2 separate regions of the Homo sapiens genome follow, and region 1 is linked to region 2. The links come from fine-mapping of genetic effects on gene expression. A gene starts in region 2. The other region holds a variant in brackets. All regions are shown on one strand. Distances are between the middles of the regions.

Evidence for each region.
Region 1: its variant is fine-mapped to the expression of PRELP in thyroid (GTEx, PIP 0.93).

What each region holds. Positions count from the first base shown.
Region 1 is chr1:203,399,997-203,405,373 of GRCh38, reverse strand. BMNCR (bone marrow associated non-coding RNA) reads left to right here. Exons shown (of 3, transcript XR_001738390.3): 3 at 1-641. It overlaps LOC102723529 (a long non-coding RNA gene), which reads right to left. Exons shown (of 7, transcript XR_922438.3): 7 at 5,282-5,377. It also overlaps the pseudogene LARP7P1. Among named protein-coding and RNA genes, the nearest start is that of BMNCR, 4.9 kb to the left of the region's middle. The variant C/T (reference allele first, on the strand shown) is at 2,513.
Region 2 is chr1:203,473,151-203,478,527 of GRCh38, reverse strand. It overlaps PRELP (proline and arginine rich end leucine rich repeat protein), which reads right to left and starts at 2,722. Exons shown (of 3, transcript NM_002725.4): 1 at 2,590-2,722.

The sequences.
Region 1 (5,377 bases), 73 kb after region 2:
TGGTCATGAGGATGAAAGTCATATGTGAAGGATGATGGAACAGAGGGACTAAAGGAGCCTGCCCTGGACACCCTGATTTCCTGCTATGGGGAGTGAAAAAGAAGCCATAGTCCCATGGATTCTGTTACCAGCCACTGAGTGCAATCCTACCTGATCCCATGGTCCTCACCAAGGCTGTGTCTGCTTAGGAAATGGAGAATGGTCCCCAAACCACAGCAGCAAAAATGAGTGGAAGGGTTGAGCATTATTTCCAGCCTTGGTTGCTCTGGTGATTGGTGCCTGGGAGGGGCAGGACCTCCATCCAACAGACTGTACCAGCAGAGTCGTAAGAGGTAGGACTTTGGAGATTCAGCCGTATGTTCTATGGGTGGACTGAAGGCTGAAGGAGGAAGAGGTAGAAGTGCATTGCTACCGACCTACTCCATCCCACGTGCAGACTCCCTCGACCCCCAACCCCAGGCTGTCACCTGCTCCTATATTCATTTTCTCTGAGGTTGGAGGAAAGAGAAAGGAGACAGCAATGGCCAGACTTCCCTGGGGTTCCCAAACTGGTTAGTGTGCTCTGCTCAAGTGCTGGCTCCCCGCCCCTCTCTATGCACACACTCAGCCCATGTTCACTGATTCCCATCCTACCCTCCAGTCATTTGCCTAACTGACTTTTTTTTTTCCAGGAAACCTCAGAGATGCATTGGACTTGGTCAGCAGACTTGAGTTCTATGCCCATGCCAGTCACTGACTGGCCATGACCTGAGTTGGACAAATCATGCCCACTCTAGACTTAAGTTGTTCCTTATATGGAAAAGGAAAGGAGTGCTTTGTCAGTGGTTCCCAGATACCAATTTATAAAGATTTCACTAGTCTGTGGCAAAATAATATAACAATGGCTATGAATTACTGGGTATTTCCTTTGTGTGAAGTGGTTTTCATATATTAACTCATTTAATCTCATAACCACCTGGAAAAGTATGTATTCTTATTAACACCTTCACATGATAGATGATAAAACCAAGGCTCAGAGAGGTTAAGTAACTTACCTGAAGGTCTTCATATGGTAAGTGGTAGAGCCTGGATTTGAACTCAGGTATCCTGGTCCCAGAGTCCACGTACTAAATCACTACATTACAGCTACCCATGTGATAAGGAAAAAGTAAGGAGGAGGATGATGATGTGCATGCATATTGATACACACAGACATATAATACAGTATATTTGTGTACTGTTAGTGTAAGTTTAATACTGACTTTCTGGGGAAGGACAGGGATATATATCCTTTATGTTAAGAGTGAGAGAATAAGTCTTCCATATTTTTTACATTAAAAGGTACTTTTCTGAAATGATGACAGAAGGTGAGTATTTTATTTGCTCAACTGGCAAAATAAAACTTATCGACAACCAGTTACTTTTTACAGTATTTTACTTCCAACTTGTAATAGACCATGAAATTAAGTCTGGGAGCCCTGAGGCTACAGGGTCTTCGAAGTCCTTTCTGGCTTAAATAATGTAAGGCCTTCAACCTCCAGGTGAGGTGACTTAAGTCACACATTCTTGGAGACGTCCTCCCAGATATCAGGCACACCATCTGGGCCCCCTGGTCAGCCTAGCAGACGAAGAGCCATCACCCTGAGGGAACCTGTTTTGGTAACATGCCTGTTTAACACTGCAAGTATTTTGACCCATAAAGAAACTTTCCTGTCCCGCCATGGCCCCAGCTTTAGCTACACCCCGTCTGTACTTGTCTACCTCTTGGGATAAGTACCATATAGAGAGAGAATCTTAAATTACTCATTAGTTGGTAGAGATATTTTACTTGAAAGCAGATCCCAAACATAACCTCCTCCTGCCCAATCCTAAATCTCAGGCACCAAAGAAGACCAAGCTCTATCCTGAGTGCTACAAATGAGAAAACCAAAGGCAAAATTATGAACTATCTTGAGGATGTCTGTTCAAAGCAATTGTCCTCTACCTTATATGGATTCTGTCGGATCCTGGAGCAGATTAGAAACAGAACAGGTAGCACTGGGGGCAGTCCATTAGTGCTCTCTTTAAAACCAAGGTGGCAAACTCTTGTTTTGAAACTAACATAGAACAAGCAATTTGAGAGAAGGGAAATTGGTGTAGCCCAATGTTGTTATTTTTTTCTTATTAACAGTCTCAAAGTCCCTAGTGAAGGAGGGGAACATCCAAACAGTTAGCAGCCAGGGACATTCTTAGGAAGGACAGCGGAAGCCACAGCACTGCTTCTGCTGTGGGGTCTACATGCCTAAAACTGAGCAAAGAATTCGACTTGGTGGGCTGGACTCTGCCTCAAAAGTGAATGAAAACAAAACAAGACTTCAAGTTAGCATTTGTGGAAAGGGGAAAAAAACCATTGTCTGCCTTTCTGTCTCACGAACACAGAAACAAAACACTAATGAAGGCTCCCAATCTGGCAGAAATCTAAGGAATTAGAGGAAAAGGAACAAAAATAAACAAAAGGACACCAGACTTCAAGTTTCTCAAGCCAGATGTGACC[C/T]TGGAAACTGGTGTGATGAGGAAGAAAAACAGCTGTTGACTCAGTCATGTGATGATTCAATGATACAATTATTTCATCATCAAAAGAGGCTTTGATAACTTCGCCATTAGCAGTAAGAGTAAAAATAGAAAAAGAGGAAGGAGGAGCTCGATTTCAGCACTAATCTGATTCATTCGCTTTAAAAGACCTAGGCTTGAGGCCTGAACTGGTTATGGAATCTAGCTATTAAAAATGGTTCTATCTGGTGACAGAATTTTAAGAAATGCTGAAGTTGGCAAAGTGGATTGCTCTATTTAGCAAAATATTTTCAGCTATGGTGGTCCATTAAAACACCAAGAAAAAGAACAAAAGAACAAAAGAAACAAAAATCTACTGGATAGAGTTTGTATGAAATCCACAATCCTGCAGTTTGCAGGAGCGGGAATACACTTGCAAATCAATGTTGGAAATTTGCATTTTTCTGAGCTTTTAGTGGAATGGAGTGTTGGGGAGGGACTTTCTGCTTTTTATGGGTGGATCCAGTGAAATGATTGCTGGTCCTGATTAGAGGCCCATGGTTTCAATAATCTAGCATTCTCCCAACTGTGTCTTTAGCCTCTCCTTCTTTCTCTTCGGCCTACAAACAGGCTACAGAAAGTGCTGCCTGGGCTACACGCTTAGATGATCCCATCCTAAATACAACTTTCCATTGACTGGGGTCCCTTTCTAGCTATGGCTCTAGCAATCAGCTCTTCTTCCCAGACAAGTTGTTTGGGAGAGAAGTCCACACGCTAACCTGTTAGAACCGCCACATAAAATACATGATGCCCACTTGAACTTTAATTTCAGATAAATGACAAATAATTATTTCAGTTTATGTATGTCCCATGCAATATTTGGGACATACTTATTATACTAAAAATTTATTCATTGTTTATCTGAAATTCAAATGTCAGATAAATTGAAATTTAAGTGAACATCCTGTATTTTTATTTGCTAAATCTGACAATCTGACTCCTAGTATCCCTTCTTCACTTTCTATTTGTTGCTCAGCCCATGGAAACCTGGTTTTTGCCTCCACCTTTCATTGATACTGCTCTCCCCAGGCTCCCCAAGGACCTCTTACTGATCAAATTCACGAGGCACGTTTCCACCCTCCATGGCAGGGGCCTCTCTGGAGGACTCTGCAGGCACCGCTGGCGTCTCCGCTGTCCTGGTGAAGCTGTCTTCCCTTTTGGCTTCCATGATGCATTACACTGCTTGTTTTCTCCACCTTTCTCTGACTGCTCCTTCCCTGTTTCCTTCACGAGCTGCGCTTGTTAAGTCACCTCTTACATGTTCAATGCTACCCAGGGCACTGCCCTTTGGCCTTCCGCACTCTCTATACACAGAGCTGGATTTGCTGCTATATTTATCTCCCCACTCAGCCCCACTGGCCTCAGCTGCCCTGAGCAGCTCTGGCCTCCTCATCCATCATGCTGGGCACCAGAGGATGTCTTGCAGAGAAACCTTTCTGCCCTGGGCCTCCAAGGAGGGCTCAGCTATCAGAGAAGAGGGTCATTTTTAAAAGGGTCAGAGCACAGGACCCTCCAAGATTGATGGGCTATGAATTATGGATGTCGCAACTGTCAGTCCCAGTGCTCCAGAGCCAGAGAGGGTGTCCCTGCCTTCCGTCCCTGAGTTGGCCTCTTCTCTCCAGCATCCCCGTAGCATGTGCTCACTAAATGTGTTCCTGTATTGCTTTTTTACGTTTGTTGTCTTTTTGATGATCTTTATTTCTATGCACACACATACACGCTCAAGCACATCCCATCTGGCTGGGAGCTCTCTGAACCCTCCTCCATCACACTGTGCCCTGCTAGAGGGCAAGGACTGAAATGCCCCAGGGGAAGTGTTTGATACACAGGTGTGACTATAACAAAACAAAACACAACAAACACACACACACAACGATTTTTACCCTTTTTTTTTTTTTGAGACCAAGTCTTGCTCTCTCACCCAGGCTGGAGTGCAGTGGTGTGATCTCAGCTCACCGCAACCTCTGCCTCCCAGGTTCAAGTGATTCTCCTGCCTCAGCCTCCTGAGTAGCTGGGACTACAGGTGTGCGCCACCTCGCCCAGCTAACTTTTGTATTTTAGTAGAGATGGGGTTTCACCATGTTTCCCAGGCTGGTCTCAAACTTCTGACCTCAAGTGATCACCCACCTCGGCCTCCCAAAGTGCTGGGATTACAGGTGTGAGCCACCATGCCTGGTTGATTTTTACCCATTTTTAAAGTTGTAAGTGCTTTTGTATGCAATACTTTGGAGCAATCTCAGGAGTTGTTTATGTTGATTTGCTAGAAAGAGATACAGAATGCCAGGCTAGATTCAAAACTCCTGAGGATCTCAAGCAATAATAAGTGCACTTACAGAAATTAAAAAGAAATACCGCTGGAAACTCAAGGGCTTTTCTGGTGATCACAAAGATACTGGCAGATTTTTGTTGATAGGTAGGCCAAACTTAATCAGCTAGGGAAAAGAAAGAGGTACTAAAAGTTAATCACCAAAGCCAAAAAGATTAAACTTGTAAAGACTCAACAAGCAAGTAAACACATTAAATTTTCTGAATATGACTGAAAACAAATTATAGTTAACCTCTTAATACTTCACTGGGTATTTGAGCTGTTCTTAGGGATCCACTTTTATTTTGGTAGTACTGTATAATAAATGTTTCCCTAAAACCTACAGTTAATTTAAAAAATATCTTTGTTCCTCAACTTGTAATGACATAAGTACGTTGCATACCACAATTTTTCATTGAACATTTTATTTGTTGAAATTATCTTATATAAGTCAACTTCAGGTGATTTAGAAAATAAATGTGTTTCGAACATTTTTTAAAAATC
Region 2 (5,377 bases):
GCTAAAAATAAAAATAACACTATTATGGAGAGACCATCTGTCTCCCCAGTGTCTACCACAAGGCAAAGTGTAAACAGAATGAAGATTTTCTGGCCTCAGGCCACTAGTTTAGAAGAGAAAGTTTTCCATTCTGAGCGGTGGGGAAGAAACCAGGGTGAGACGACTCTTCTCTGACAGCCCGCCACCTACCATATCCTCTGCCCCATTCCCCCAGCATCTCCAAGCCTTGAAGAAAGCCTAGAAGAGTGTGTCTGATGCCTTGAGTGATTATAGATCTGAGACCCAATCCTGCAGTTCTTCATTCAGATGCTTAGCTAGGTAGGCTTAGGCAAAGCAATTGCTTTTCTGCTCTATAAAATGGGGATACTAACACCTTCTTTTCTGTTTTGAGGGTTAAATGAGTTAATACATGCAAAGTGAGTGTTTTCTGAATGTTAAGGTCTTGTTGATATTATTTCAAAGTAATGGGGTCTCCTTCCCTCCAGCCTGGCTAGAGGGCAGCCCCCATGCACTGCTCGAAGGCAGGGATCCTTGTGAGTGGGGTACCAGCTCTTCCACACAGAGCAACTTCCTCCCCTTTGTGGCTTGTGAGATCACACTTGGGTCTCAGAAACAACTAACTGAGGAGACTCTGGAAGTCCCCAGCCACCTAGGGAAAGCTTGTTCTGTCTTTCTAATTCACCAACTTCTCACCGATGCTTTCTGCAACAGGTGAGGGGACACTGGCCACAGAAGGTGCAAGTCTGCCTTCCTCAGTGGGCCATGGAGTTCCACTGCGATTCTTGACTTCTCCCAGCTTTTTGCCCCTTCCAGCCTTGAAATGCTTCACTCACATGCCCAATAAATGGGATTGCCCACTAGGGAGGTGGAGGGGGCATGAAGAAAGTGTTCAGCTCACCCTCTGTGAGAGCCCAGACAGGTGGCTGCTGGGAAGGAGGAGCAGGGACCTATAAGGGTCAGGGGAAGGGCCCAGCACATGCTCCTGGGGTCCTGGGGCAGGCAGATTAACAGGTGAGGGGAAACAGAAGCTCTGTGGAGCCATCTTGGGGGAACTTTCTTACTGGAATGTTCCTCTGTGGTATATATGGCTGCTTGTGCTTGCAAGGAGGAGAGAGGGAGACAGCTCTTCCCTGTTTACTCCCACTCCCCAAAAAAGAGGTGGCCTATTTGGGACACTCTGGTGCTCCTTTTCCAGGACACAGTCCTTCTGCCCAGCTAACACTGCCGGAGTCTTGGGCTTAAAAATTACAGCAAAGCTCTCTCTCAGGCCCCTGATTCTCGAGCCCTGGTGGACCATCAGAATCTCCTGAAGTATTAAAACAAGATTCCTGGGTCTCGATTCAGTAGATCTGCAGTGAGAGCCGACATCTGTATTTTTAGTAAGCCCTCCACACTCCTCCCTCTCCAGCCCTTAGGTGACTGTGAAGATCAGCTGTGTGTGGGACCCCTGATCTCCCTACACCCCGCCTGCCTTGGGACAGACCCTCTCTATTAATAGAGAGGAATGAGCAGGGGAGCAGGAGAGGGGCCGCCCTTCAGTTTTCCCCTCCCCAACTGCTTAAGGAACTGCTGCCTTTTTTTTTTTTTCTCCTCTGCCACAGGACCTTTTGCCAACCTAAATGGTTGGAATAATTTCAGAACGGCTTTAAAGAAAAATATTTTTCTGGCTGCCTGCAGGAAAAAAAAATAAAAAAATGAACTGTCCCCAGAGCTGGGAATTAGGACCTTCAAGGATTGGGAACTGGGTCGCTTTCTTCTTTCTTTCCAAAAGCCAAGTGGTTTGGACCAGTGAGACAGAAATTGAAAGCTGCTGAGAAGACACTGTGCAGGTTGGAAAAAGCCGTTTTTCTCTCCCTCCTACCCAGTGAAGCCCTAAATAATGAAGAAACCCTTCCAGCTCCCGCTCTTGCTTATCTCCTCCCTATTCGGCCTGGACTTGGGATGCAAGATTTTCTTCTGGCTCTGCCATCTCAGTGGGAAAACGTACTTTATCTTTGCTCTTACAGCTAGGGAGGTGTGTGTGAGAGGGCGAGAGACAAGATGCAGGGAACATGTGTGCATGCATGTGTGTGTGTGTCTGCTGGTGTCTGGTGATGATGTGGTCTAGCTCTGCATGTCAGATGCAGAGGGCAGAGGTGAATGGACAGGATGTCTTCATTTTGTATGGTCGTGTGGGGTGATGGTAGTGAACGTGCAGCCTCCGTGTGATGTGTGTGACTTCCACAATGTGTGACAATACACAAAAGGTGCAAAGAAATGGGTTCTGGAGTCCAGTTTCTATGGAAACACCTGATCTGTAGAAACACTTTGTGCAGCGTGGCTCTCTGTGCTACAACAAACATCTGCAGCAGGAAAGCTTAACTTTTGCAGTAAGCAAATATAGGGGTACAGAGTGATGAAAAGAAAAGGAAGAGGCTATAGGAAAGAAGTTAGGAAGACTAAATTTGAACTCATTTGAGAGGAGAAAGAGGTGGGAGGAAGGAAGGAGTGAGAGGATAGAGACTAGATCAATAAATGGACAGAGCTGGAGGAAACTTACTGGATGAAAGATTCTTCCCAGTCTCCTGCCCATCTCCCAACTGGGCTTACCTGCACACACCTGCCTCTCCTCTCAGCTCTGAGTTTAGTCCTCCTCTTCCACCCCCTCCCTTCGGCGGAGCTGTGGCAGCAGAGAGCCAGCTAGAAGATCTGATCTCCCAGTGGTGTGTGCGTGCTTGTGTTTGCCTGACTTTTCTTCCACCAGATCCTATTGGGGTGGGGAGGTTAGCTTGGGGGGAGGGAGGGGCAGATCATAGGGAGGGAGGGGAGGAGAGGAGGGAGGAGGGAGGGAGGGGAGGGGAGGAGAGAGGGAGGGAGCTTGGGAAAGGAGGAATGACAATAAAGTCTTTATTTGGCAGCCAAAACTCCCAAAGACTTCATCCACACACCATTCCCACTAACAGACTCATTTTTAATAACATTTCCTTCTGCTGCTGCCGCTTCTGGAGAGGGGTTGTTTGACCCATGTTTGGAAAACAAGCCAAATTAACAGAGTGAAAAGGCATGAAAAGCAACCTCTGTGTAAGCCAGGACTGGATGGCTGGGTCCAGCACTAGCCTGTTTAATTCCTCCTAACAATCGCCTTGCCTTCTGGGGCCGTTGCTCGGTAGTGTTAAATTCCTAAACCAGTGAGGGGTTTGGGATGCTTCCTCTGAGCAGTGACAGTCTTTCCCTAAGTTATCTTCTCCAGGAGGTTGCAAAGGGAGTGGAGTCTCAGGCTGGCATAGGAGATAACTTCGGTTTGGCTGCCAGGGCTGTTCTGAGAACCAGAGAGGGAGAAGTCTGGCCTGAGTTGCACAGCAAAGTTAAGGCAGAATTAAGATTTAATGTAAGACCTAAAGTCACTGTTCCTAGCTCATGTGGACAATGTAGTGGCTTCTTTCAGCTTCTCCATATCACACTTAGGTGAGATTTAGGGGCTGTGTGGTCATCACACAAAGTGATGGGAAATCCAAATTTCCCCTGTGCACATCAACACCCCAGAAGACCCAGTCAAGTAACACCACTACCTCTAACAATCCTCTAACAATGCCCCTCAATTAAGAAAGCACAACACACTTGCAGGTAAGTAGATGCCCATCAAAATTTCCTGCCATGGCCAGGCACAGTGGCTCACGCCTGTAATCCCAGTACTGTGGGAGGCAGAGGCAGGCGGATCACCTGAGGTCAGGAGTTTGAGGCCAACCTGGCCAACATGGTGAAACCCTGTCTGTACTAAAAATACAAAAAAATTAGCTGGGTGTGGTGGCGGGCATCTGTAGTCCCAGCTACTAGGGAGGCTGAGGCAGGAGAATTGCTTGAACCTGGGAGGCAAAGCTTGCAGTGAGCCAAGATCGTGCCACTGCACTCCAGCCTGGGCAACAAGAGCGTGACTCTGTCTCAAAAAATAAATAAGTAAATAAAATAAATAAATTCCTGCCATCCCAGCTGACTACTTAGAAAATGCAACGCAATTTTCTTCTCCATTATTGGTTCCATGGAGAGCTGCAGAGCCCCATGACAGGGGACTGCCTGCCTGCCCTCCGCAATATGGGGTAGAGGAGAGAACATTAAAATTAGGGTCTGCAGCCCTGGGCTCAGCCACCCACAAGCTATGGTCTTAGGTGAATCACTTGATCATGAGGACCTTCAGTTTCCTCATTTACAAAATATGGATAATATTGACCTCACAGGGTTGGGAAGATTAAATATTGTAAATGTGAGAGCACTTTATAAACTGGGAAGATATTAGGGTTTAGGAAAGGGATTGCGATGAATGGTAATTAGCCTAAGAAAAGGAGAAGGAAAAATAAAACCCAGACCTTTCTCCAACCCCCTTCCACCCCAGATCTCATGGCTTCACGCCCTGCTGGTGAGGTCTTGCTGGAAGACAGCACGGTTCCTCTCCAGGTTCACATTAACTGTGGCTCTGCCAGGCTGCTCATGTGCTTCATTTCTCATCCAGATGGGATATGGCGTCTTCTGCAGGCCGGGAACATCAGACGCCAGATTTGCTTGTTTCCCTTGGTATGGTGGGTGGTAGATGATAGAGGGCAAAAAAGACTGGCTGGGCACGGAGACTCATGTCTGTAATCCCAGCACTATGGGAGACGAAGGCAGAAGATTAATGGAGCCCAGGAGTTCGAGACCAGCCTGGGCCATATGGGGGGACCCTGTTTGTACAAATAATTTAAAAATTAGCTGGGTGTGGTGGTGTGTACCTGAAGTCCCAGCTACTTAGGAGACTGAGGTGAGAGGATTATTTGAGGCCAGGAGACCAAGGCTGTAATGAGCTATGATTACGCCAGTGCCCTCCAGCCTGGGTCACAGAGCAAGACCCTGTCTCAAAAAATAATAAGGTGAGCAAAGTACAGTGAGGTACAGGGATGATGGGTAGAGTGTCTGTGGGGATAGACAGACTGGAAGGAGTGTGGAGTATGGGCAGGGGCAGGGGTGTCACCTGTATCCATTTGTATGACAGCCATCCAAATCCCAAGAGTCTATGCTCTCGGGAATGGATGGCCAACTTCCAAGCCCTGCCTAAGCCAGTTATCTCCCTTCCTCCCTCTCCTATCTCCCGCATCCCACGCTATGCAGAGAGAATTGGAAAGAAGTATAGACATGGCCAGCAGGATATTCAGGAGTGTCCAGAATAGAGTTTGCTAATCAGTGGCTTGTGGACCTAATATGGCTTGAGTACCTAATTTTTTTTGACAGCACGTTAATTTTTTAAAAGTTTTGTGGAAATTTTAAAACGTATACATATTTACACAGTATAGTATTAATATCCCCATTATCTAATACCTAGCTTCAACAATTACCGACTCATGGCCAATCTTGTTTCTTCTGTGTTCCCCAC